4 linked regions of the Homo sapiens genome follow. The protein of the gene in region 4 interacts with the protein of the main gene of each other region in a biochemical or structural test. Each region holds a gene or a part of one and is shown on either strand. Other genes may lie near its edges. The genes, in order: MLF2, DDAH2, DOC2A and SCGN.

Region 1 (2,646 bases), on a different chromosome or scaffold from region 4:
GGATTGAGCGGCACCGCCAGAAACCCTGGCTGCTTTTTTCCGGATTGGGTTGTGTGTGGTGTGTTTATCCTGAGATGGTATAGGCAGGGCTTTGGAAGGGGCGGCTGAGTGTGCCACGTTCTGCCTCATCCCAGATCCGGGAGACACGGAGGACTGTTCGGGATTCAGACAGTGGACTGGAGCAGATGTCCATTGGGCATCACATCCGGGACAGGGCTCACATCCTCCAGCGCTCCCGAAACCATCGCACGGGGGACCAGGAGGAGCGGCAGGACTATATCAACCTGGATGAGAGTGAGCCTTCCCTCCCGCTTCCTGGCTGGCAGCCCCTAACCCGGTTCCCGTGGACATCCCTAACACATAGACACTTCTGGGGCAAAGCTCTGGGTCAGCCCCATATTCCTTTTTTTTTTTTTTTGAGATGGAGTCTCGCTCTTGTTGCCCAGGTGCCCAGGCTGGAGTGCAGTGGCGCGATCTCAGCTCACTGCAACCTCCGCCTCCCGGGTTTAAGCAATTCTCCTGCCTCAGCCTCCCGTGTAGCTGGAACTACAGGCATGTGCCACCACGCCCAGCTAATTTCTGTATTTTTAGTAGAGACAGGGTTTCACCATGTTGGGCAGGCCGTTCTCGAACTCCTGACCTTGTGATCCACCCACCGACCGTTGGCCTCCCAAAGTGCCGGGATTACAGGCATGAGCCACTGCACCCAACTGTCAGTCCCATATTCTTACCGCACTTGGAGCCTCCTCCGCTCGGGCGGAGTCAGGTGCTGGCGGTGTCTTTGTGAGGGGCCTACTTTGTCCCTGAAGTTCCGTATTGATAGTGTTACACCCTTCTCCACCTTGATCCGTTTCTTTCTCCCCTCTTTATCTTTTTCAAATCCGCAATTATTAAGTACCTAGTGTGCACATAGGACTGTGAACCTGAACTGAAGAATAATCCCATTCTGATTTCTTCCTCCAGTAGGCCACCTTACGCCTACCGGTGGCTTCCTGGGACCGTGCAGAAACCAAAAGAGCTAAGGGAATTGCCACCCCACCCATCCCTGCACGCACACTCAGCCTTCGCCGCTTTGGCCCGAAAAGCTGTGGCTCGCTCGCACATCGGCCTCCAGGAGCCAGGCCGCACACAGGCCTCATGTCCGCTCTGTCCTTTCCAGGTGAGGCCGCAGCGTTTGATGACGAGTGGCGGCGGGAGACCTCCCGATTCCGGCAGCAGCGTCCCCTGGAGTTTCGGCGGCTTGAGTCCTCAGGGGCTGGGGGACGAAGGGCGGAGGGGCCTCCCCGCCTGGCCATCCAGGGACCTGAGGACTCCCCTTCCCGACAGTCCCGCCGCTATGACTGGTGAGGGCCCCGGGCCCTCAGCCTCTCTTGTAAGTATCAGGAGTAAGGAGGGTGGGGTGCACCTGCGGACGGTCCTCGGCTGCAAGGCAGGCTCAGTTCAGGCTCCCGCAGGAGCTGCCTTTGGTAGTACAAGTTGACATGGAAAGAGAACAATGTTCTCACTGACATAGGGGATTAAACCCCAACTCCTGGCTCTTAACGTAAGTTTTTTCTTCCTTTTGACTTGTGCTCCTCTCTCTTTCCCCCTCCAGGTACAGGCTGAGAGGCTGAGAAATCATCCCCTGAATAACTTTTTCCTCTCGATTCCCATCCCCAATTTAATATTAAATTAACAGGCAAGCCGGCCCCCACCTCTCCCTGGGGGTCTCAGGGAGAACCTTTCACGGCACCCTTTCCCTACCTTTTCCTTCTTTAATCTCCTGGTTTACCATTGATGACTTCGCCTCTGCATCTACTGACTTGATTTTTCATTCTGCCACTCCATCTTCAAACCCCCTCACCTTTCCCATCCTACTCCTGCCATGCATTGAAGGGTCAATGCATTTTGGGGTGAGCTCTGGGTTTAGGGGCCCCCTCCATCCCTCAGCTACCCTGGATCTTTGCCCACCTCTTCCTCAGAGCCCCCACTGAGGGGCCGTAGCCCTATCTAGGGCTGTGGAAGGAGCAGACTGGTTCCTAACTCTCTCCCTCCTCCTGCCCACACACATCAAAAGAATCTTCCCTACACCCTTCTCTGCCTTTATTTTTTGATTTGTGCAACTTGTAACTAGGTGTTTATGGAATAAAGGAGAATGGAAAAAAGACCAAGTGGGATTCTGGCTGTACTTTTGATCTTTTCCTGTTCAATTCAACCCTGCTGTCTCCTCTGAAGTTACCTTCTCACTTTTCCTCGTCTCCACCTGTAGTCTTCGTACCTCAGAGTTCAAGCCCACATCTCCTTGGTACGGACAGACCATCAGCACTGCCAGGTGCAGGCCGTGAGCACTTGGCTGGGCTAGGCTGGGGCGTGAGAACATGAGCACCTCTCTCGCTGGCTCTTCCCTCACATTCTGCTGTAACTTTGCTCTTCAGGGATGTGTTGGGCATCTCTCATGGGTGCCTGCGGAACTTGCTGCCCCTTGCCCCTTGGACAGAGTTTCTTTCCTGCACTCTGGGTGGAAACACTTCAGATAACCCTACACAGGCCTTCAGAGGGGAGGAACTCTGGTCTGCAGCGTTCCACAAACCCTCCACCCACAGTAGTTGAGAATTTGAGCCCAGGGAAGGAGCCTAGAGAAGAAAACTAACCTGGAACCTGAGCAGG
Region 2 (6,774 bases), 6.1 Mb from region 4:
TTTTCTGGCAGAATAGGGTCATGCTTAAGAACAGTCATCACTCTAGATCCAGACTACCTGAGTACAAATCCAACTAGCCGTATAATTTTGAGCAATCATTTCACCTCTCTGTAAGTCCATTTCCAGATCCACAAAATTAGGATGACAATACCTATTTCATGGGTTGATATAAATTTTTTTTTTTCTTTTTTTTTGAGATGGAGTCTCGTTCTGTCGCCCAGGCTGGAGTGCAGTGGTGCAATCAGCTCACTGCAACCTCTGCCTGCCGGGTTCAAGCAATTCTCCTGCCTCAGCCTCCTGAGTAGCTGGGATTACAGACGTGCATCACCACGCCCAGCTAATTTTTGTATTTTTAGTAGAGACAGGGTTTCACCATGTTGGCCAGGCTGGTCTTGAACTCCCGACCTCAGGTGATCCACCTGCCTCGGCCTCCCAAAGTGCTGGGATTACAGGAGTGAGCCACTGCACCCGGCGATATAAATGAGTTTGTAAAATGTAAAGTGTTCACTTTGGGAGGCCGAGGCTAGCGCACCACCTGAGGTTAGGAGTTGGAGACCAGCCTGGCCAACATGACTGGTCTCTACTGAAAAAAATACAAAAATTAGCCAGTTGTGGTGGCAGGCACCTGTAATCCCAGCTACTCAGGAGGCTGAGGCAGGAGAATCATTTGAATCTAGGAGGCAGAGGTTGCAGTGAGCCGGGATCATGCCACTGCACTCCAGCCTGGGCAACGGAGCAAGACTCCGTCTAACATAAAATAAAATGTAAAGTGCTTAGAATAACACATAGAAAAGTAACTACATGAGTGTTAGCTATTATTATTTTGGACTCACCATTAGTATCCACCCCCAACGGGCCTTTTCGGACTATGTCAATCTTTTCCTGAAGTTCTAATCAGTTCCCTCTCTTGCACAGATCTGGAGAAGGGACTCCTGAAAGCCCTGAAGGTTTTAGACAATTACTTAACATCCCCCCTCCCAGAAGAAGTGGATGAAACCAGTGCTGAAGATGAAGGTGTCTCTCAGAGGAAGTTTTTGGATGGCAACGAGCTCACCCTGGCTGACTGCAACCTGTTGCCAAAGTTACACATAGTACAGGTGTGTGGTTATTGCGGGAGGAGAGGATGACCACTGGAGTGGCCCTTTAAGGAGCTCCCACATGGGCTTCCCCTGACAACCACTCTAAAGACGATTTCTTTCTTAGGGTGGTTTTCATAAATTGCTACCAATGGCAGACCCCACCCCAGTCCTTTGCAGCAGTCATTGCTAACAAGACCACTGCTTGAGATAATTATATTCCATGATGTAAGTCATGGGTGCAAACAGACTAGCAAAGAGGAATACATCCCAGTATTACTTTTGAAGAATGCTCTTCCTGTCTCGGTATCACTGCCAAATTCCCAGATTAGACAGAGCAGGCTTTTCCTAAAGTCAAAGCTTTAACTTTCTTTATAACTTCAGTCTTCACTTCCTCTTGTGGAAGATCAAAACTGCTGGTTCCCATGTTTTTGTCATAGTCTCAAAGCTATGGTTTAGTTTGTGCAACATGGGCCTGACATCAGTCTGCCACACAACTATGTAGTGAACATCTGTGTACTAAGCATTGAAAGATACACAAGTGTATGGTGACTGGGCCTTGCTCTCAAAGGGTTGAAATCTGAGACAATAAAATATTCACATGAAAGTTAAGAATATATGATGAAAAGTCAGATGGGCCGGGCGTGGTGGCTCACGCCTATAATCCCAACACTTTGGGCGGCCAAGGCTGGTGGACCACCTGAGGTTAGGAGTTCGAGACCAGCCTGGCCAACATGGTGAAACCCCATCTCTACTAAAATTACAAAAATTAGCCGCACATGGTGGTGGGCACCTGTAATCACAGCTATTTGGGAGGCTGAGGCAGGAGAATCACTTGAACCCGGGAGGCGGAGGTTGCAGTGAGCCAAGATCGCGCCATTGCACTCCAGCCTGGGTGACAGCAAGACTCCATCTCAAAAAAAAAAAAGTCTGATGAAAAATATAGAGACAAAAGTCACCTGTGTCAGTGCCTGAAGTGGTATAGGGGGAAAAAGTCACTGTGGAAATTCAAGAGGAGAATTTTATAAGTAAATTATATCTCAAGTTTTAAAAACTCAGGAAAAATGGCTGGTTATTAAAAGCCAGGATTTCAGTAAGTGAGAAGGAAGGCTAACGACAGTACAAGACAGTGAGGAGTTGAGCTGGTTTTATCATGTCGGCCTGGGGAGAAGGGAAAGCCAAGGTGGCTTCCCTGGGTCTAACATGTTGGTCCCTCTCCTCTCCCCATCCTCAGGTGGTGTGTAAGAAGTACCGGGGATTCACCATCCCCGAGGCCTTCCGGGGAGTGCATCGGTACTTGAGCAATGCCTACGCCCGGGAAGAATTCGCTTCCACCTGTCCAGATGATGAGGAGATCGAGCTCGCCTATGAGCAAGTGGCAAAGGCCCTCAAATAAGCCCCTCCTGGGACTCCCTCAACCCCCTCCATTTTCTCCACAAAGGCCCTGGTGGTTTCCACATTGCTACCCAATGGACACACTCCAAAATGGCCAGTGGGCAGGGAATCCTGGAGCACTTGTTCCGGGATGGTGTGGTGGAAGAGGGGATGAGGGAAAGAAATGGGGGGCCTGGGTCAGATTTTTATTGTGGGGTGGGATGAGTAGGACAACATATTTCAGTAATAAAATACAGAATAAAAATCAAGTGTTTTTACGCAATGGGGATTTAAAGTGTGGGCGACATGGAATGAGGGGTGGGTCAGTGATCTTGAGCTCAGGGCAGAAGCCAGGAATTAAGAAGGGAAATGTTTGTGGTGGGGCTGCTATGTTTCGTGCCGGTCCGCCGGTCCGCCGTTGCGCTGTTCTGAGGTCTACGAAGCGTTTGCAGCCCCGTCGCCAGGGCCGGCCAGATCTGGGTGGGCCTGGGCAGCGCTCGCTGGGCGGTGCCGATTTCTGGCAAGGGGGGCGCAGTCTGGATGTAATGGGCGAGGCTTAGCAGGGCGGAATGGGCGTGGCCCGAAGAAGCCCCGCCCCGTCCCGCTTAGACAATGCCCCGGAGCCGCCAGACCGTCGCGCCCCTGCCCCATCGTAGTATATGAGCTCGCCTACACAAGGACCCGCGCTAAAAGCCAGAGCTCCCAGTCCCCGAGGCTTGAAGACGGGGACTCCCTTCTCCACCAACTCTGTCCTCGGGGGGTGGGGCCCCAGCCGAGATCACAGCGCGACAGGAGTGGGGGTGGCCGCTGGAGGTGAGTCTTGCGTGGGGGGCCCTGAACCGTGTGGGGGCCGGAGTTTGGGGGTGCCGGGCCCATGCCTGCACCAGACAGAGAGTATGGGGAGCCGGTATTTGGGCGCGGAGCTAGGCGGGGTGGACTTTGGGACATAGACGGGGAACCGGGTCCTGGAGCCGGGAGTAGTGCCAGCGCCCCGGAACCACGCCCCCTGTTACCCCGCCCCTCGCATTTCGTTTTAGACCTCTCCCAGTCCTTCGGGACTCGGTCTGGTTTATACTAGGTCGCGCTAGGGGCAGCGTGACCAGCCAGGGCGGAGAGAGGATGCTTAACTCCTTAGGCTCGAACTCCTCCCTTCCTACCCACCTCTCTCCCTTCTCGTTCGGGTATTCAGGACTTCCATTCCCCAGCCCCTGCCTCTCCAGCTTTCTCCTTCTGTCCCATAACCCCTGCGGGTCGCGGGCTGGACTTCCAGTCCCTGCGGTAGCGAGCAGCTGAGGGTTAAGGGGGCGGGGCTGCTGCATTTTTGGGGAGTGAGCGCATCCTAGTGGCTGCCAAGAGGGGCGCCCGACAGGGACCTCACAAGCCCCCAAGCAGGGGCAACAGGTGTTTTGGAGATTAGAGACCCTAGCCTTGTTCCTCAGGCTCCTCTTAAAGAATCTGACCCCTGAGGGTGCTGGGTAGAGTGAGGTCGACAGGAGCGGAAGGTCTGGAGTGGGTGGGGCGGAGTGGGAGGGACGCCTAGAGATGGCAGGAGGAAGACCTGGGCGCTCTTAACCACCCCCAACGCCCTTGTCTGCATGTCTTTTTCTCTGTCTCCTCCTTTTCTGTTTCTTCTCCCAGACAGGTGAAGAAACAAGAAAACTAAGAAATCCGAGCGGTTGGAGGGGGAGTCTGTGTGGATGGGATGGGGACGCCGGGGGAGGGGCTGGGCCGCTGCTCCCATGCCCTGATCCGGGGAGTCCCAGAGAGCCTGGCGTCGGGGGAAGGTGCGGGGGCTGGCCTTCCCGCTCTGGATCTGGCCAAAGCTCAAAGGGAGCACGGGGTGCTGGGAGGTAAACTGAGGCAACGACTGGGGCTACAGCTGCTAGAACTGCCACCTGAGGAGTCATTGCCGCTGGGACCGCTGCTTGGCGACACGGCCGTGATCCAAGGGGACACGGCCCTAATCACGCGGCCCTGGAGCCCCGCTCGTAGGCCAGAGGTGAGCGCCGTGGCGCGGGTGTGGTATGGGGAAAGGCAGAAGGAACTGGATGTCGGGGCTTTGGGGAAGAATTGAGGATGGGGGTGTCACAGCTCCGTGCCCTCTTCTCCTATCCTAAGGTCGATGGAGTCCGCAAAGCCCTGCAAGACCTGGGGCTCCGAATTGTGGAAATAGGAGACGAGAACGCGACGCTGGATGGCACTGACGTTCTCTTCACCGGTGAGGCTGGGGGGAGGCATAGGTCTTGGCACAGGGAAGTAGAGTTTGGGAGACTCGGCCGTCTGGAGCCTTGTTTCTAACTCACTCCCGCCCTCAAACCTCCGCGGCCTCCCGGACTCAGGCCGGGAGTTTTTCGTAGGCCTCTCCAAATGGACCAATCACCGAGGAGCTGAGATCGTGGCGGACACGTTCCGGGTGCGGAGCGGGACCAGCCTAGGGAGGGAGGGGGTGCAGGTGGGGGTCGGAAGGGCCTGGGCGCCCGCTGAGGAAATGAGAGGCAGAGAGCAGCCTATGTTTGAAGATACCCCATCACCCCTCCCGCGCCCCTGAATACCTCCCTTCGCTCTCCCTAGGACTTCGCCGTCTCCACTGTGCCAGTCTCGGGTCCCTCCCACCTGCGCGGTCTCTGCGGCATGGGGGGACCTCGCACTGTTGTGGCAGGCAGCAGCGACGCTGCCCAAAAGGCTGTCCGGGTGAGGAGGGGGCGGGGCCAACGAAAGTGGGCGCAGTTCTGGGCCCGGGAGGCCGGGAGCTGGGAGGCTTAGGAAATTAGCCCTAACCCCTGCCCTCAATGGGCTGTCCATCTTACATGAAAGAACACAGGAGAAAATAAGAAGTTACAACAGCAGGACTGGGAACAGGGGTGATTAATTTGCTCTTCCGGAGTTTCAGGAAACCCCAAAGGTGGCACCTAAACTGTGACTCTAAGGATGGGTAGGACAGATAGGAGGGGCTGGGGAAGGTAGGGGGTTGAAAATAACTGCATGTGATTCCAAGGTGGAAATTAGCAAAGGTAACTAAAGTACTTAGTGTCTGACATATCGTAAGCTCTATGTGCTTGCTGTCATTATTTTCCACAAATGTCAGTCCGTCCCCAGCCCTTAGTGGTGGTTGAGCAGGCAGACACAGCTGTGGAGAGGTTCTGAGACTCGAACACTTCCTCTTTCCTCTAGGCAATGGCAGTGCTGACAGATCACCCATATGCCTCCCTGACCCTCCCAGATGACGCAGCTGCTGACTGTCTCTTTCTTCGTCCTGGGTTGCCTGGTGTGCCCCCTTTCCTCCTGCACCGTGGAGGTGGGGATCTGCCCAACAGCCAGGAGGTGAGAGAGGGCAGGAACTCCAACACCAAGCACCATCAGAGAAAAGAGTTTCAGGCTTTCCTAGTGGGAGGAAGGAAGGGTACCTTCTCTAGAAGCCTGGGTGGGGCCACTCTGAGCTGGCTGGAAGAGTGGCCTGGCTCAGCCTGAGGTCTCACTCCCCTCTCCCCACTCCATGTCTTCCCTGTGCAGGCACTGCAGAAGCTCTCTGATGTCACCCTGGTACCTGTGTCCTGCTCAGAACTGGAGAAGGCTGGCGCCGGGCTCAGCTCCCTCTGCTTGGTGCTCAGCACACGCCCCCACAGCTGAGGGCCTGGCCTTGGGGTACTGCTGGCCAGGGGTAGGATAGTATAGGAAGTAGAAGGGGAAGGAGGGTTAGATAGAGAATGCTGAATAGGCAGTAGTTGGGAGAGAGCCTCAATATTGGGGGAGGGGAGAGTGTAGGGAAAAGGATCCACTGGGTGAATCCTCCCTCTCAGAACCAATAAAATAGAATTGACCTTTTAGACTGGGCTGTGACTGGTGTCTTACTGGGGCAAAGGGATAGGGCAGGGCTGAAACCTGAGTTTGGGGTCAGTGCAGGGAAGAAGGCCTCTTATTCAAAAATCTTGTTAGGTACTTATCAACTCATTGCCCAACCATGTCATAGGTACTTGAGCACAAGATGAACAAGACAGAATTTCTATCATGGGAAGTGTGTCCAGGGCAGAGAAAAGAGTGTATGGGTGGATTGCTCACTGAATTTATCTAAATGTTAGATGATTCAGAGACTGGTAGATTACCAGTCCACCCCTATTTGATAAAGAAAAAGAAATGACACTTCCAGGGACATTCATTTTCATTCATTCATTTAATGAGGCTTAGCAATGATATCAAAAGGGTCAGTCTCCTGACGTTGGGGAGCTCACAGTACATGCAAATTTCTTACAAATTGAAATACAGGTTGTCATGGAACAATTTACAGAAGGCTGTTTCTATGAGGGAAATAAAGGGGGTGCGCCCTAGG
Region 3 (7,352 bases), on a different chromosome or scaffold from region 4:
GAGCGAGACTCCATCTCAAAAACAAACAAACAAACAAACAAACAAAGAAATACCAAAATTTATTATTTTAATGTATTCTTTGGAACAGGTAACCTATGCATGTGGCACAAAATTCAAAAAATACAAAAGGATGTACGTTGAAAAGTAAGTCTTTCCTCTTCCTGCCCTGTCTCCCCAGAGGTCACCATAGTTATATTTTCTTCTGTGTATTTATTATTTTTTTATTATTATTTTTATTTTTTCACTCTCTCAGCTTGTCAAGAGACACAGTTACCATTCTTGTGCAGGCCTCCAGAAACAACATATGAACAACTAAGCAAACACGGCTAAGCTCTTTCCCTCTCAAATGGCAGTATTCCAAGCATGCTTCTCTGCACTTGCTTTTCTTTTTTGATTTTTTTTTCTTTTTTCTTTTTCTTCTGAGATGGAGTCTTGTTCTGTTGCCCAGGCTGGAGTGCAGTGGCATGATCTCGGCTCACTGCAACCTCCGCCTCCCAGGTTCAAGCAATTCTCCTGCCTCAGCCTCCCAAGATTACAGGTGCCCGCCAACATGCCCAGCTAATTTTTGTAATTTTAATAGAGACAGCGTTTCAGCATGTTGGCTAGGCTGATCTTGAACTCCTGACCTCGTGATCCTCCCGCCTCGGCCTCCCAAATTGCGGGGATTACAGGTGTAAGCCACCATGCCCAGCCTGCACTTTGCTTTTTTTTTCTTTGAGATGGAGTCTCGTTCTGTCGCCCAGGCTGGAGTGCAGTGGCGCAATCTCGGCTCACTGCAAGCTCTACCTCCTGGGTTCATGCCATTCTCCTGCCTCAGCCTCCCAAGCAGCTGGGACTACAGTTGCCCGCCTCCACGCCCAGCTAATTTTTTGTATTTTTAGTAGAGATGGGGTTTCACCGTGTTAGACAAGATGGTCTCGATCTCCTGACCTCGTGATCCACCCGCCTTGGCCTCCCAAAATGCTGGGATTACAGGCGTGAGCCATGGCGCCTGGCCTGCACTTGGCTTTTCTAAGTTAAAATGAAACTGTGAAATGATTCTAGGGCCAGGCACAGTGGCGCACGCCTGTAATCCCAGGACTTTGGGAGGCCGAAGCGGGAGGATTGCTTGAGTCCAGGAATTTGAGACCAGCTTGGGCAAAGTAGTGAGACCTTGTATATTTAAAAAAAAAAAAAAAGATGATTCTAAACAAGAGCAAAACAGCCTCTTGTGGCTGCACCCTATTTCACTGCATGGAATTACATCATGACTGATTTAACTGGTCCCCTGCTTCTGGGTATCTCAGTTGTTTCCAGTCTTTTGGAACGTGCTACATTTAAGAATTTTGAACTTCATGGCCAGGCGCGGTGGCTCACAGCTGTAATCCCAGCACTTTGGGAGACCGAAGCAGGCGGATCATGAGGTCAGGAGTTCAAGACCAGCGGGGCTAAGATGGTGAAACACCGTCTCTACTAAAAATACAAAAACTTAGCCAAGTGTGGGGCGTGCGCCCCTGTAATCCCAGCTACTTGGGAGGCTGAGGCAGGAGAATTGCTTGAACCCAGGAGGCAGAGGTTGCGGTGAGCCAAGATCGCACCATTGCACTCCAGCCTGGGCAACAAGAGTGAAAGTCTGTCTCAAAAAAAAAAAAAGAAAAAAAGAATTTGAACTTCTATTATTTGGCTTATGGGTTGGCATATCTGTAAGATAAAATCCTAAAAGTGGAATTTCTGGGTCTAAGGATTTTTTTTTTTTTTTTTTTTTTTTGAGACAGGGTCTCACTCTGTTACCCAGGCTGGAGTGCAGTGGAGTGATTATAGCTTACTGCAGCCTTGACCTTCTGGGCTCAAGAGATCCTCCCACCATCACGAGGTCAGGAGATCGAGACCATCTTGGCTAAGAAGGTGAAACCCCATCTCTATTAAAAATACAAAAAAATTAGTCAGGCGTGGAGGCGGGCACCTGTAGTCCCAGCTACCCGGGAGGCTGAGGCAGGAGAATGGCATGAACCTGGGAGGTGGAGCTTGCAGTGAGCCGAGATCACGCCACTGCACTCCAGCCTGGGCGACAGAGCGAGACTCCATCTCAAAAAAAAAAAAAAGAAAAGAAAAAAAAAGAAGAGAGATCCTCCCACCTCAGCCTCTTGAGTAGCTGGGACCACAGGCACACACCACTATGCCTGGATTTTTTTTTTTTTTTTTTTTTTTTTTTTGTAGAGACAGGGCCTCACCATGTTGCCCAGGCTGGTCTTGAACTTCTGAGCTCAAGGGATCAGTCCGTCTCAGCTTCCCCCCAGCCCAGACACTTTGGCTTTGCCCATTTTATGGGTAATAAGTGATATCTCAGGGTTTTTTGTTTGTTTGTTTGTTTGTTTGTTTTGAGACTGAGTTTTGCTCTTACAGCCCAGGCTGGAGTGCAGTGGCACGATCTCAGCTCACTGCAACCTCCGCCTCCCGGGTTCAAGCGATCCTCCTGCCTCAGCCTCCCAAGACACATACCACCACGCCCGGCATTTTTAGCAGAGATGGGGTTTCACCATGTTGGCCAGGCTAGTCTCAAACTCCTGACCTCAGGTGATCCACCCACCTCGGCCTCCCAAAGCGCTGGGATTACAGGCGTGAGCCACTGCGCCCCGCCCCCTCAGTGTTGTTGACTTTACATTTCTCTTACTTTTTTTTTTTTTTTTTTTTAAGAGACTGTGTCTCACTGTGTTGCCCAGGCTGGCTTCACTCAAGCGATCCTCTCGCCGCAGTCCCTGGAGTAGCTAGGATTACAGGCACCCGCCACCACTCTCGGCCCCATTTCTCTTATTTAAAAAAAAAAAAATTGCCGTGAAATACGCATATCGAAATGTACCATCTTCACCATTTTTAAGGGTAAGATTAGGTGGTGTTAGGTATGTTCAGTTGTCGTGCAACCAGATTGCTGTTTTAAATAACAGCACTTAGAGATGCCGACTTCGTGCCAGGCCCAGTTTGGGACATTAGGGACTCCCAGATGAATCAGCCGCTCCAGTGGAACTCCCTGCTGGTGGGGGAGGCACTGGCGAAGCGGTGCTGAGCCGAGTCCTGACGGCGCTGGAGCTGAGGGGCAGTGCGGGATGCCCCAGGAAGGCTCCTAGGAAGAGGGGACCCACGGTGACTTCCTAAGGAAGCGCGGTTCCCAGGTAGAGGAGCGCATGTGAGCCAAGATCCCTAGGCCTGAGCCGTCTAGGTGTGTCCCAGGAACTGCAGGAAACGGTTGGGTGAGTCAGTGGTGGGCAGCGAGGGTGATAAGCCCCTTCGTGTCTTCGGGATGGTAAGTTTGGGGCACAGGTGAGTGAAGACCGAAGGCCAGGGGTGGACTGACACTCCGTGGCAGGCGCAGGGCCGGGCAGGGGGGCGGCTTGGGGGTGGCAAGGTTTGGGTGAGAAATGGCAGCCCATGGGGAACTACCGCAGGGCTCTGAGACCTTCAGAGCCAAGCCCCGACGCCCCTTCCCACCTGCGGGGCAGAACTGGGGATGGCAGGGGGGAGGGTGGTTCCCAAAGGAGATACCATCCCTGGTAAGGGGACATGGGCCCCTGGGAGTTGGGTTGGGCCACAAGGAGAGAGGCCTGAACGGCCAAAGGGAGGGGGCGTGGGGGAAGCCGCAGCATCAGACCTCTGCCTCCTCCCTCAGATCGTGAGGCTCCCCAGCCTGGCTCGGGAGACCCCGAGATCCCCGGCCGGTGACAGCAGGCGACCCCCTGCTCCTGTCAACCTGTGGGTCCCTACGGACGTGGGGAAGGGAGGAGGGAGGCCCCAGCTCCCTGCGGGGGAGGGGCGTGAAGACGCGCGGGGGTGGGGGGAGATGAGCCGGCGTCGCCATGACAACGAGGCCGGTGGTCCGGCCTTGGGGACCCGGGAGGGAGGGAGGCGCCGTGGCCGCGCGCGCGGGCGGGGGCGGGGGGCCAGGTCTCCCAGGAGTAGTTGGGGAACACCCGGCGATTCTGGCGGCTGCTTCCTGGTGGCGCAGGGAGCCCGCGTGTTTGCGAGTGCGTGTGTGTGCGAAGTTCTCCGGGTAAGTGTGCCAGCGCGCGCCTGGGTGTGTGCAAGGGTGTGAGCGTGCACACGTGGGCACGGGCGTGTGCGCGCGGGGGTGCCCGGTTGGATGTGTGCACACGAGTGTGTGCCGGTCCGCGTGCCCCTGCGTGAGTGTGCGCGCGCGAGCACACGTGTGTGTGCGCGCTCGCGTGCGCTCCCGAGCGGGCCCCGGGTGGGAGTCCGAGATCCCGCCCCCTCCCCAGCCCCAGCGCCCCTCCCCGTCCCCCGCCGCCGCGCCGGCTGCATCCTCGCCTCCACCTCGCTCACCCCCTCCTCCCCGCACTTTCTCGGCGCTCCCTCCCTCTCGGCTCGCACAGCTCGACTCCGCGCTCTCCTCGCCGGCCGCCGCCGCCCAGCCTGCGCCCGCCGTCCCCCCAGTGCCTGGGCACCTGTTGGAGGCAGAGGCAGGTGCAGGGGGCTGGGCAGGCCGGGGGCGTGAGGGTGCGGGGAAGCGTGCCAGCCTGTGTGCGCTACGGGGGTGTTCGGCTCTCCTGCGGCTGCAATTTCTGGCTCCCCTGAGGAGCCAGAGGTGGCATCTGAGGCTGGGGTCTCCACCGTGGGCTGTGGTGAGCGAGCGGGGGAACCAGGCAGGCAGACAGGTCCTGGGGCTGAATGAGGGGACAGTGGGCAGTTGGAGCCTAGAGGGGTGGGTGACACCCTGACTAGACCAGCGCCTGGTGCAGAGGAGGACAGAGCCTCCGAGAAACAGAGGCGGGGCCCTGCAGGGCCCCTTGGGGGACAGGCAGGCTCAGGAGCAGAGGGGAGCCCCGGAGGAGAGGAAGGAGCTGGCAAGATGATACAGGGACAACCTAGAAGTGGGTGGGTGAGGACGGGGTGGTGCAACCTCGACTTCTGCAAGGAGTGGGTTGGCAGCCCAGCCCCTGTGGAGTCAGCTTGGGGTCTGCAGGGCCCAGGCCTCCCACCTGCCACCGGCTGGCACACACCACCCTCTCCCTCGACACCTAGGAAGGGAGGCCAGTGAGGGCCCCACAGACCGAGGAGGCCGTCGCCTGGCCCTCAGCCAGGATGGCTAGGTATGATGGGCTCACTGGCTCACACGCCCTCTCCTAGCCAGGGGTGCTGCATGAGGGGCCGCAGGGGCGATCGCATGACCATCAACATCCAGGAGCACATGGCCATCAACGTGTGCCCCGGGCCCATCCGGCCCATCCGCCAGATCTCTGACTACTTCCCCCGGGGACCAGGACCTGAAGGGGGCGGCGGGGGCGGCGGGGAGGCCCCCGCCCATCTGGTCCCCCTGGCTCTGGCCCCCCCTGCAGCCCTCCTTGGGGCCACCACGCCTGAGGATGGTGCGGAGGTGGACAGCTATGACTCGGATGATGCCAGTGAGTCTGGGGGCTTGGAGGCCCCATGTGCTGGTGGGGGTCTCCAGGCTTGCCGTGGTGGGGGGAGAGGGGGATGGGCCCTGCTGGCTGTGCATGTAGGTAGGGGAGGAGGGCAGTGGGGGGGTGGCAGGGACGGCCACCACAGCTGCAGTCAGCGTGGAGATTACAGCTTCAGCAAGGCTCAATATTCAGTATTTCTGCTGAGACACTCCACCACCCACACAGCCCCAGTTGCGGCCGAGCCAGGGACCCAGACGCACACACGCATGGGCCCACTCAGCCTCTTGCACTCACACTCGCGGGCTGGCAAGAGAGAGAGACACACAGAGCCAGTGCCCACCTGCTGGCCTCTCGCACACACCTGTCTCCATACCGACCCATGCTGCCTTTCCTCTCTCTCCAGCCGCCCTAGGCACGCTGGAGTTTGACCTTCTCTACGACCGGGCCTCCTGCACTCTGCACTGTAGCATCCTCAGGGCCAAGGTGGGCACTCCCTGCCACCCAAGCCCGGGCCCGGTTTGCGTGCAGCCCCCAGAGGGGGCCCATTCCTCCTTCCCTTCCCAGGCCTGCTCCTTCGTCCTGCCCTTGCCCCCTCCTTCTGGGCTCCTCCAGGGTCCAGCTCTACAAGAGGGATGGAGAGAGGTGCCGGGAGCCTCTAGCCCTCTCCCCTGCCCTCCTCTCCAGGGCCTCAAGCCCATGGATTTCAATGGCCTCGCCGACCCCTACGTCAAGCTGCACTTGCTGCCTGGAGCCTGTAAGGTAACAGCCTCCTCTCGCCCCGCCCGGCCCAGCCCATGACTCCAGCCTGTGGGGCTGGAGGACAGGTATTGAGAACCTTTCATCCCCACATCCCAGGCCAATAAGCTAAAAACGAAGACTCAGAGGAACACACTGAATCCCGTGTGGAATGAGGACCTGACTTACAGCGGGATCACAGATGACGACATCACGCACAAGGTGCTCAGGTGAGGGCCCCCCTCCCCACCACCCAGCAGCAGCTCGGGGACAGCTGACATTGTAACCGCTGGTTGGTTGATCTATGTCCCATTAAGCCCGTACCTCTCTGATGCTCAAGAACCATCAGCGGCTCCCTAGCCCCTTTGGCAGCAGGCCAAAATTCTTCCCTGCCATTCCTGCCCCTCAATATCTCCTGCCTGCCAGGTGTGGTGGCTCACACCTGTAATCCCAGCACTTTGGGAGGCCGAGGTGGGCGGATCACTTGAGGTCAGGAGTTCAAGACCAGCCTGGCCAACTTGGTGAAACCCCCGTCTCTACTAAAAATACAAAAATTAGCCGGGCGTGGTGGCATGTACCTGTAAATCCCAGCTACTCGAGAGGCTGAGGCAGGAGGATCACTTGAACCCGGGAGGCAGAGGTTGCAGTGAGCCGAGATCGCACCACTGCACTCCAGCCTGGGTGATGGAGACTCCATCTCAAAAACAAAACAAAAGTATCTTCTGCCCCTCAAACAGAGGACTCCCTTCTTCCAACTGGCCAGTTCCACAACTCCTGAACTTTTCCTGTTGTTTTCTATCTGGAAAGCTCCTTCCTGCCAGCCTAAATTCCGCTCATCTGAGGTTCAGTCCAAGCTCTGCCCCCTCCCAAAAACGTTCCTGGGTTGCCGAGACCCCTTCTCAGAGCCCTTGGCTTAAGCCAGACCTCTGCAGCTTTGGTCTGCCCCTTCCGTGCCTTGAGTTCCCCTAAAATCTCTTAAGGAGTGAAGTCTTCAGGGACAGGGAACTTGCTCCGTCATCCTAGGAGATGGAGATGTAGGGAGAGTACTCCCTCAAGTCAGGTGGCGGGCAGCGAAACCCAGGCTCTGGAGAGACCTCTGCCTTTGTGCTTGGATTTGCAGCTGGGACCTTCCCTGATGGTCAGGGCTGTGCAGCAGAGAGGCCACCTTGGTTTCAGCTATTCGGGTGGAATGGAGGGGAGGCCAGAGGCCAAAACCAGAATGAGACC
Region 4 (7,050 bases):
CAAAATCTTGGAATAAATGGGATGGCCAGCTCCTAAAAATCTGTCCTCAGGGACCTGGAACTTCTCACCTTTTCAGAGGGCTCCTTGTTCTAGTCATTTATAAAAGGGAGGAGAAAAATTGCTGTCACTGTTGAAGCTGGAGTATCTAATATTCATTCATCGAGTTGGGGTCTGCACTAAGATGAGGATGCTGTGAGATATCTTCATCTGAGATTTTGGCTAACCTTAGAAGCATTGTTGCCATTGTGAGAGAAAAGAGGGATGTCATCTCTTGCAGCTTGGCTGTTTTTATCATTGCCCCTATCTCAGACCTGGTCCATGGACTAATGCTCTTACACAGGGGCAAGCATAATCCTCGAGGAAAGAGGACAGCAAAGGACTCACTGGTGTCCTGCGCAACTGCATTCAGTGCAAATATCTCTGAGGCTGGAACGGGGGTTGGAAGTTCTCATAATCCTTAACCTAGTGCAAATCAAATTTCAGTATGCCTGAGAATTATATTTTTTTGTTAAAATGCAGACCCCTAGGTCTCATCCTGTAGGTATTTAAATACATTTGGGGTCTGCCAAAGATCTTTCATTTTAAAAGCACTCAAAGTCAGTTAGCATGTTTTTTTACCCTTTTTTCCTCTAGGAACAGTGACTTTTGGAGAGGGGATTCTGATATAATTAGGCCAATCCCACTGAGCTGTGGCAATAGCCTCAGGCACATCTCATGAGCACTTGGCTGGGAAGAAAGCTTTTGGAGCCAGGATGATAAGTTTGAACTCTTAACTAGAAATGATATCATCTGCCATTGGATGCCTTTCAAAACGCTGAGGCATTACTCTGGGGAGTGTGTTTGCAGGGACTTTCACTGGGCACTCCATGCTACCTGGACAACCATGATTAAGGAAGCTATTCCTAATTTTGGGTTTTGTCTCTGATGAGTAATAAGTAGGCCTTAAGCAAGTTCTTAACAATAGGGCAGGACTTCCAAAATGGAAGGCCCTTCAGTTGAGGAACAGTCACCATTTGATTGTGACACCTGCTTTTGATTGGTAATGCCCAGTGAGTACAGAATCCAGCAGCAGGGAGGCCTCCACAATCAGGCAGCCCCTTGCTCTGGTGTTCAGCAGTGGTAAGCCAACCTTCAGAGGCATGAATAGCTCTACTTTCCTCTGATGATTAGCGGATCACAGAGATCTCAGAAGAAGGTATTTTGAGGTTTCTAACAGCAAGCTGCCTGCTAGTCTATCCAGGAGAGCAACCAGCCTGCTTGTAATTACCTATTCCTCAGAGCCTCGGAGGGGATTGACTTAATGGAACCATCAGCTGCAATTGCTGCTGTTTCTGTTACTCCCTGCAAACCTTTTCTTTCCAAATGCTGAGATTTTAGCCAGTTCATGGATAAACATCAGATTCTATGTGTACATACCCCTCACATACAGACTGTACCACATCCTGGGCCTCTTTCAATACTTCAGGGATTATAGTACCCTGCTGTAGCCTAGCGTCTCAGATAAGGACTGATGGGAAATTACAACAGAGGAAGCCCCAGTTTCTTTTGCTTTAGGTCAAAGGGATAGTCATGAGCTTTGGGGTTAGGGGTCTGAGAAGACAGAAGCCAAGATTCTGTGTCCTCAAACTAAAGGTAATGTAGAATCTGGCCACTGTTACTTTGACTTCACATTTATTTACTTTAAAATCTAATTTTTCACCAACATGACCTATGTTAGTTAACTTCCTTTGGGAATTCCCAGCCCATCATAAAGAATCATTTATTCATCCAATGGATCCTGTGTTCCAGAGATAAAGAAATGAATGTTATACTTGTGGAGTTCTTAATCTAAAAGATCAAGCTGAATTTCAAAGTGAAGTTCGACCCTGTTGAGTGATTTCCATTGTGCTTTTCCTGTATGGTACATGAACCCTCAAATGTAAGCACACACAAAATCTTTAGTGCTGAAACTAGACAGGTTAATCCCACCACGATTAGTGGGGTATCACATGAGGTAACCTGGTTGACAGAAGAACCTGGAGTCTCAAAGAACCTGTTCACCTTCCACAGAGAATAAAAAAAATGTACCTATTGTCTCTGAAGACCCACTCCAAAGAAGACTCATGGTCGGTGGGGAAAGGACAACTATGTGTGGAGGCAGAAATCCAATGCTCATTCCCTGTCTCTCCATCTAGAGCTGTGTGATAGCAACATGCCATTTAAACCTCCTGGGTCTCAATTTTCCTATCCATAAAATAATAATTATTAGAATAATGTTTTGGCCTGCCTGTTTCACAGTGAAGACCCATAAGATAACACAAGTGAAAGGTGCTTTTAGTTGCAAAAGCACCCAACATATATGTTCTTATGCTGACGCAATATCTTCTTGGGTCCTTAGTTTTCCCAGTGTTTATTCTATGCCCCACTTTGCCTCAGATCCACCAAGGGGTTATCCCACACAGGATCATTGAAGCTTACTCTCTTAAACACTGAAATGCTTTTAAGATTTTATATATATATATAATATATATATTACGTGTATATATATATGTGTATGTGTGTGTGTGCATATATATATGATTTCCAGTTTATGAGAGCAAGTTTTCCAAGCTAGGGTAGCCTTTGGAGGATGCCTTAAGTCATACTCACCACCACTCTTTGGTCCTTCATGAGTAAAGGAGGCTACTCAAAGGAAGACAGAAGACAGACTGTCACCTCAGGGACCTGTTAGACTTGCTCTGTCTTAGACAAATGATACAGGCATTATCTCTCATTTCTTCACTTGATGCTTTGGTTCCAAATCACTAATGTATTTTTTCACATTTTTAGTCTGGTGTGTGTTCATTTAGAAAGGTATCCTTTTTTTTTTTTTTTTTTTTTTTTTTTTTTTTTTTTTTTTTTTTTTTTTTTTTTGAGAGGGAGTGTCGCTTTGTTGCCCAGGCTGGAGTGCAGTGGTGCGATCTTGGCTCATTGCAACCTCCGCCTCACGGGTTCAAGCTATTCTCCTGCCTCAGCCTCCCGAGTAGCTGGGACTACAGGCACGTGCCACCACGGATGGCTAATTTTTTGTATTTTTAATGGAGACGGGGTTTCACCATGTTAGCCAGCATGGTCTCAATCTCCTGCCCTCGTGATCCACCCACCTGAGCCTCCCAAAGTGCTGGGATTACAGGCATGAGACACCATGCCCATCTGGTATTCATTTTTTTTTTTAACTAGACCCTTCACTGTTCCCCATTTATAATCACCATATGAGTATGTTTGGTTGATGTTGACAGAGTCAGACTGTCTAAGTCCTCTTATTTTAATCATTTTGGGTTTCTAAATACAGGACCAAAGCCAGAGGTATAGCAGATGACCTTGATATGGCTAGGATGCACAGATCCATTTGACTGATACATCATCTCAATCACAAATGCTACTGGTTTGGGTTTATAATTTTAAAGAATAGCTATACATATAGATGCTATTTTTTAGTTCTTGTTCATATAACTTTAATTTTTTCACAAAGAGACTCACCTTCACTGCAATTTATTTCAAATAAAGTTTATTCCTCATTATTTATTATCCATTTGGGAACTATACAAACCATTAATTCATTAACCTCTTTCTGTTGCATGCATTTCATCTATTTATCATCATTTGCAGCAAAAAAGCAACAAGTGAAAAAAAAGGAAGTACAATTCTATCTTTATACTTGCTGACAAAAGTTTGTGTATGATTGAACAGGGAAGAGGCAAACTACTGACTGACATGAAACTTGGCAGTTCCCTATATATCCAGTATCCACACCAATCCTGGAAGTTTAGAGAATCAGATATTAGAGGATCCAATAGCTTAAATCCTGTCAGCTCACAGCATCTTTTCTACCTCACTATTATAACCCGACATCAAACATTTGCTATGCACCCACCTCCTGCAATGAGTTGGTACGATGGATGACAATTATCAGGGGCTGAGGTCTAGCATAATGCCCAGGAACTTCCCTAGCATTAAAATTGTTTTTGCTGACCAAAGTGTTCCCTGGTTTTCTAAGAATATGCTTTCAAACCTTCAGGGTCTTATAATATCTAAAGCTTGTGGTTATCTAACTAGTTGCCAGAACCCATCCTGAAAAATCCCCAAAGCAAGTCATCAAGCTGTCCTTGCATTTTGTTTGAACCATCTAATTTATTAACGACTTAATGTTGGAATGCAATGACTCCATTAGGTGTTCTCTGCCTCATCTCAACCAACAACAAGGTGCGGTGGAAAGTGCACTAGACCAGATATCAAATATGCTGGTTTCAAGATTGTTCTGCCAGTATTCAGCTGCATCACCCTTCTGGCCTGTTTTCTCCATCAGTAAAATGAAAGGGTAGTGTCTCAGATTCTTAGAAAGGGTGCCAAACATCCTCTGATTTTTTTTCTTCTTTATTCTTTTGCTTCTAAATCACAAAGACTAATCTGAAGGAATCATACGTTTTGATTTATAGTTGCAGCAATGGATAAAATTATCATGAATTTGAGTATTAGTCTTCATATGTTAAGATCTGGAAGGTAGAGAGTTTGTACTACTTTTCTACTAGATTTTCTACTCACTGGAAAACATTTGCCATATGCTGTCTTCCCTGGGTTTTATGCCTGAGAGCAACATGTTGTGCCAGGCTAAAGTGTTTTAGGACGTTTTGTTCTAGGAAGGACTAAAACAGAGCATGGGTTGTTCTGGCAAGTTCTTTGCCATATGCAAGAGGTCAACTGAAAAGATGACAGCCTGATGGGAAGAGGTGAGGACTGACAGCCCCTCCGAGTCAAGACTACAAAAAAAACAGAAACATTTTCTCAGCCAGTGATGGGAAAATGATAAAGGAGAATTTCCATGTAAGAAGCTGGAGCACAAAAGAAAAAAACAAGGTCCCCAAAGAGGAAGAAGCTAGCAGGCCAGCAAGGAAGCCAGGGGCTAAAGGTTATAGTACATTTTTTTCTGCCTCCCAGGGCCGTTGTGAAGATCCAGGGAGATAATATTTGTTAAAGAGCATGGCTTAGTGCCCATCCTCTGGCTGGCAGTCCAAAAATGTTTATTCACCTGCTCTTCTTTCCTATTCTTAGCAACTGGATGTGGCAGCTGTTAATTCCCCACCACAATTCTCTTTCCACCGTCTCCTCTTTTCTTTGTAACCCATTAGGGAGAGGTCTCAGTGGAAAGGAAGGCTGGACAAAGATGCCTTCCACCAGCCTGTGATGGAGGGCAAAGACCAGGTCTCTTTTGCTGACTATAATATCACCAGGGGCCAGAATTGTGTTTGGCACATGGTAGGTGCTTGACAGAAAGCAGTCTTTTCTGGGTTTTATACCTGAAAGCAACATGTTGTGGTGGGCTAAAGTGTTTTAGGACATCTTGCACCTGGGTTGTTCTGGCAAGTTCTTCCTTATCTCAGGATGTTGCATTACCAGCACATGCTGGGGTTATTCTTGAGAAATACAAGTGAGAAAGGCAGAAGAACTGAGTTAGCCCAAGGCCACCCAGAGAACTGTCCTGTACACATGTGCATGGATGATGCATCCAGAGAGTGTGCTGAAGGCTGAGTCACCTCCACCCCCAACACCAACAGGGAGGATAATGAGTCAACAGGATTACCTCTTCTCAGCCCTTCTAACTTACAGCTGGAGGGCTTGGGACAAGAGACAGCATGATAGTATTAGGGAGAATGAGTTTAGCATAAATTTCAGCAAGTCTAGAATCTTACAATTGGGCACTGTTTGGGATTATCTATGCTTCTCAACCCTTGCATCAGAATTCATTCTTTATTGTTGGTTACATATGTCACTTTTACTGTAGTAACCATAAAATCCACCAAAGAAGACAATTAAGGTTCTACATAGAAGGGAGTTGTAACATCTTTGGTTAACTCGGCAATTACCTTATTACTTTGGTCTCCTCTTTAATTATTTCTCCCTTCTCATTATGTTTTTTTCCTCAGAGAATACAAAAGAAGATTAAAAATGAGTTACAGACACCTGGGGGCCCAGAAGAACTGGACTTTTCAGTTAAAAAATGTAAAATCTCTGAGTTATTGGGAAGAAAATCTGTAATTACAATACAGTCTTTTGTCACAACCAAATACAACACTGTTCAAATTTGTTCTTTCAGCACCCTAGTCTCTAAGCTTCTTTTCATCAATATTTTAGTAACTCATTAACTGTAAATTGTACCTAGTCAAGATTCTGATTAGTGCTTGGTTGCTCAAGAAATCTCCAGCATTGCTCTCTCTTCTACAAAAGGGTAAAATCACTTTAAATGGTCAAGGAACCTGCTTTCCATGTTTGAAAAACATAATTTTCACGCTGTATATTTTGAATATTTGCCATCCTAACTATATCTTTGAGATTCCAGTGGCTTTAATGTGGCTCTGTTTGGTCAATTGCAGGACACGGTCATGAAAGCAAATTTGCACAAGGTGAAACAGCAGTTTATGACTACCCAAGATGCCTCTAAAGATGGTCGCATTCGGATGAAAGAGGTAACTTTACTGACAGTATTTTTCATGGCTCTACTCTTCTTGACTGTTTTTTTCTTTACTTTATCGTCTTGGGCTGTAATATTCTTTGAAAGACAATGGAAACTTTACATTTGATCAGGAAATTAGAGATTTCTGAAAGGCAGTTGGCCTAGATAGCATTTTAAAAGTAATCACCTCTCCTTTTTCATCTACTTAGTAACAAAGAGTGTGCAATTCTTTTATCATTTTATTTAGGTCAATCAATATTTGTACCTGTTTTATAATTTGGGAATTGAAATGATAGAGGCCTTTCAATTACTTGATCTACTATTTGTCTCTTTATACAGTGTCCTGTTCAAATTGAACATTGATATAAGGAAAAACTTACTGATAATAAATAAGGTTAAACTTCAGCATCAGCTCCCAGTGCAGGTGGGAAAGATCTATCCCTAAGATTATTAAAAGCACGACAGACAATAGGTGTCTTTACTTCAACTCAACCCACTTTTATGGAGCACATACTAAAGCATGTAACTATACTACATGTGTAGGGCTGTGGGGATGGTCTACAACTTACCTGATCATTTCTCCT

What was found.
Region 1: the proteins of SCGN (region 4) and MLF2 form a complex in vitro, tested with the Homo sapiens proteins (one study listed by BioGRID).
Region 2: the proteins of SCGN (region 4) and DDAH2 form a complex in vitro, tested with the Homo sapiens proteins (one study listed by BioGRID).
Region 3: the proteins of SCGN (region 4) and DOC2A form a complex in vitro, tested with the Homo sapiens proteins (one study listed by BioGRID).

The regions. Positions count from the first base shown.
Region 1 is NC_000012.12:6,747,496-6,750,141, reverse strand, and holds the end of MLF2 (myeloid leukemia factor 2), read left to right. Parts: intron 1-134; coding exon 135-294; intron 295-1,159; coding exon 1,160-1,347; 3' UTR 1,348-1,372; exon of another isoform or gene 1,373-1,594; 3' UTR 1,595-2,146; downstream 2,147-2,646.
Region 2 is NC_000006.12:31,726,540-31,733,313, reverse strand, and holds DDAH2 (putative hydrolase DDAH2), read left to right. Parts: upstream 1-4,014; 5' UTR 4,015-4,152; coding exon 4,153-4,449; intron 4,450-4,568; coding exon 4,569-4,668; intron 4,669-4,789; coding exon 4,790-4,863; intron 4,864-5,021; coding exon 5,022-5,141; intron 5,142-5,621; coding exon 5,622-5,771; intron 5,772-5,960; coding exon 5,961-6,077; 3' UTR 6,078-6,274; downstream 6,275-6,774. Other genes in the region: CLIC1 (chloride intracellular channel protein 1), read left to right, coding at 916-1,097, 2,311-2,472. UniProt on the Homo sapiens protein: Putative hydrolase with unknown substrate. Does not hydrolyze N(G),N(G)-dimethyl-L-arginine (ADMA) which acts as an inhibitor of NOS.
Region 3 is NC_000016.10:30,007,999-30,015,350, reverse strand, and holds the start of DOC2A (double C2-like domain-containing protein alpha), read left to right. Parts: upstream 1-4,323; 5' UTR 4,324-4,448; intron 4,449-5,115; 5' UTR 5,116-5,128; coding exon 5,129-5,390; intron 5,391-5,793; coding exon 5,794-5,873; intron 5,874-6,074; coding exon 6,075-6,149; intron 6,150-6,245; coding exon 6,246-6,355; intron 6,356-7,352. UniProt on the Homo sapiens protein: Calcium sensor which most probably regulates fusion of vesicles with membranes. Binds calcium and phospholipids. May be involved in calcium dependent neurotransmitter release through the interaction with UNC13A.
Region 4 is NC_000006.12:25,655,166-25,662,215, forward strand, and holds part of SCGN (secretagogin), read left to right. Parts: intron 1-6,386; coding exon 6,387-6,479; intron 6,480-7,050.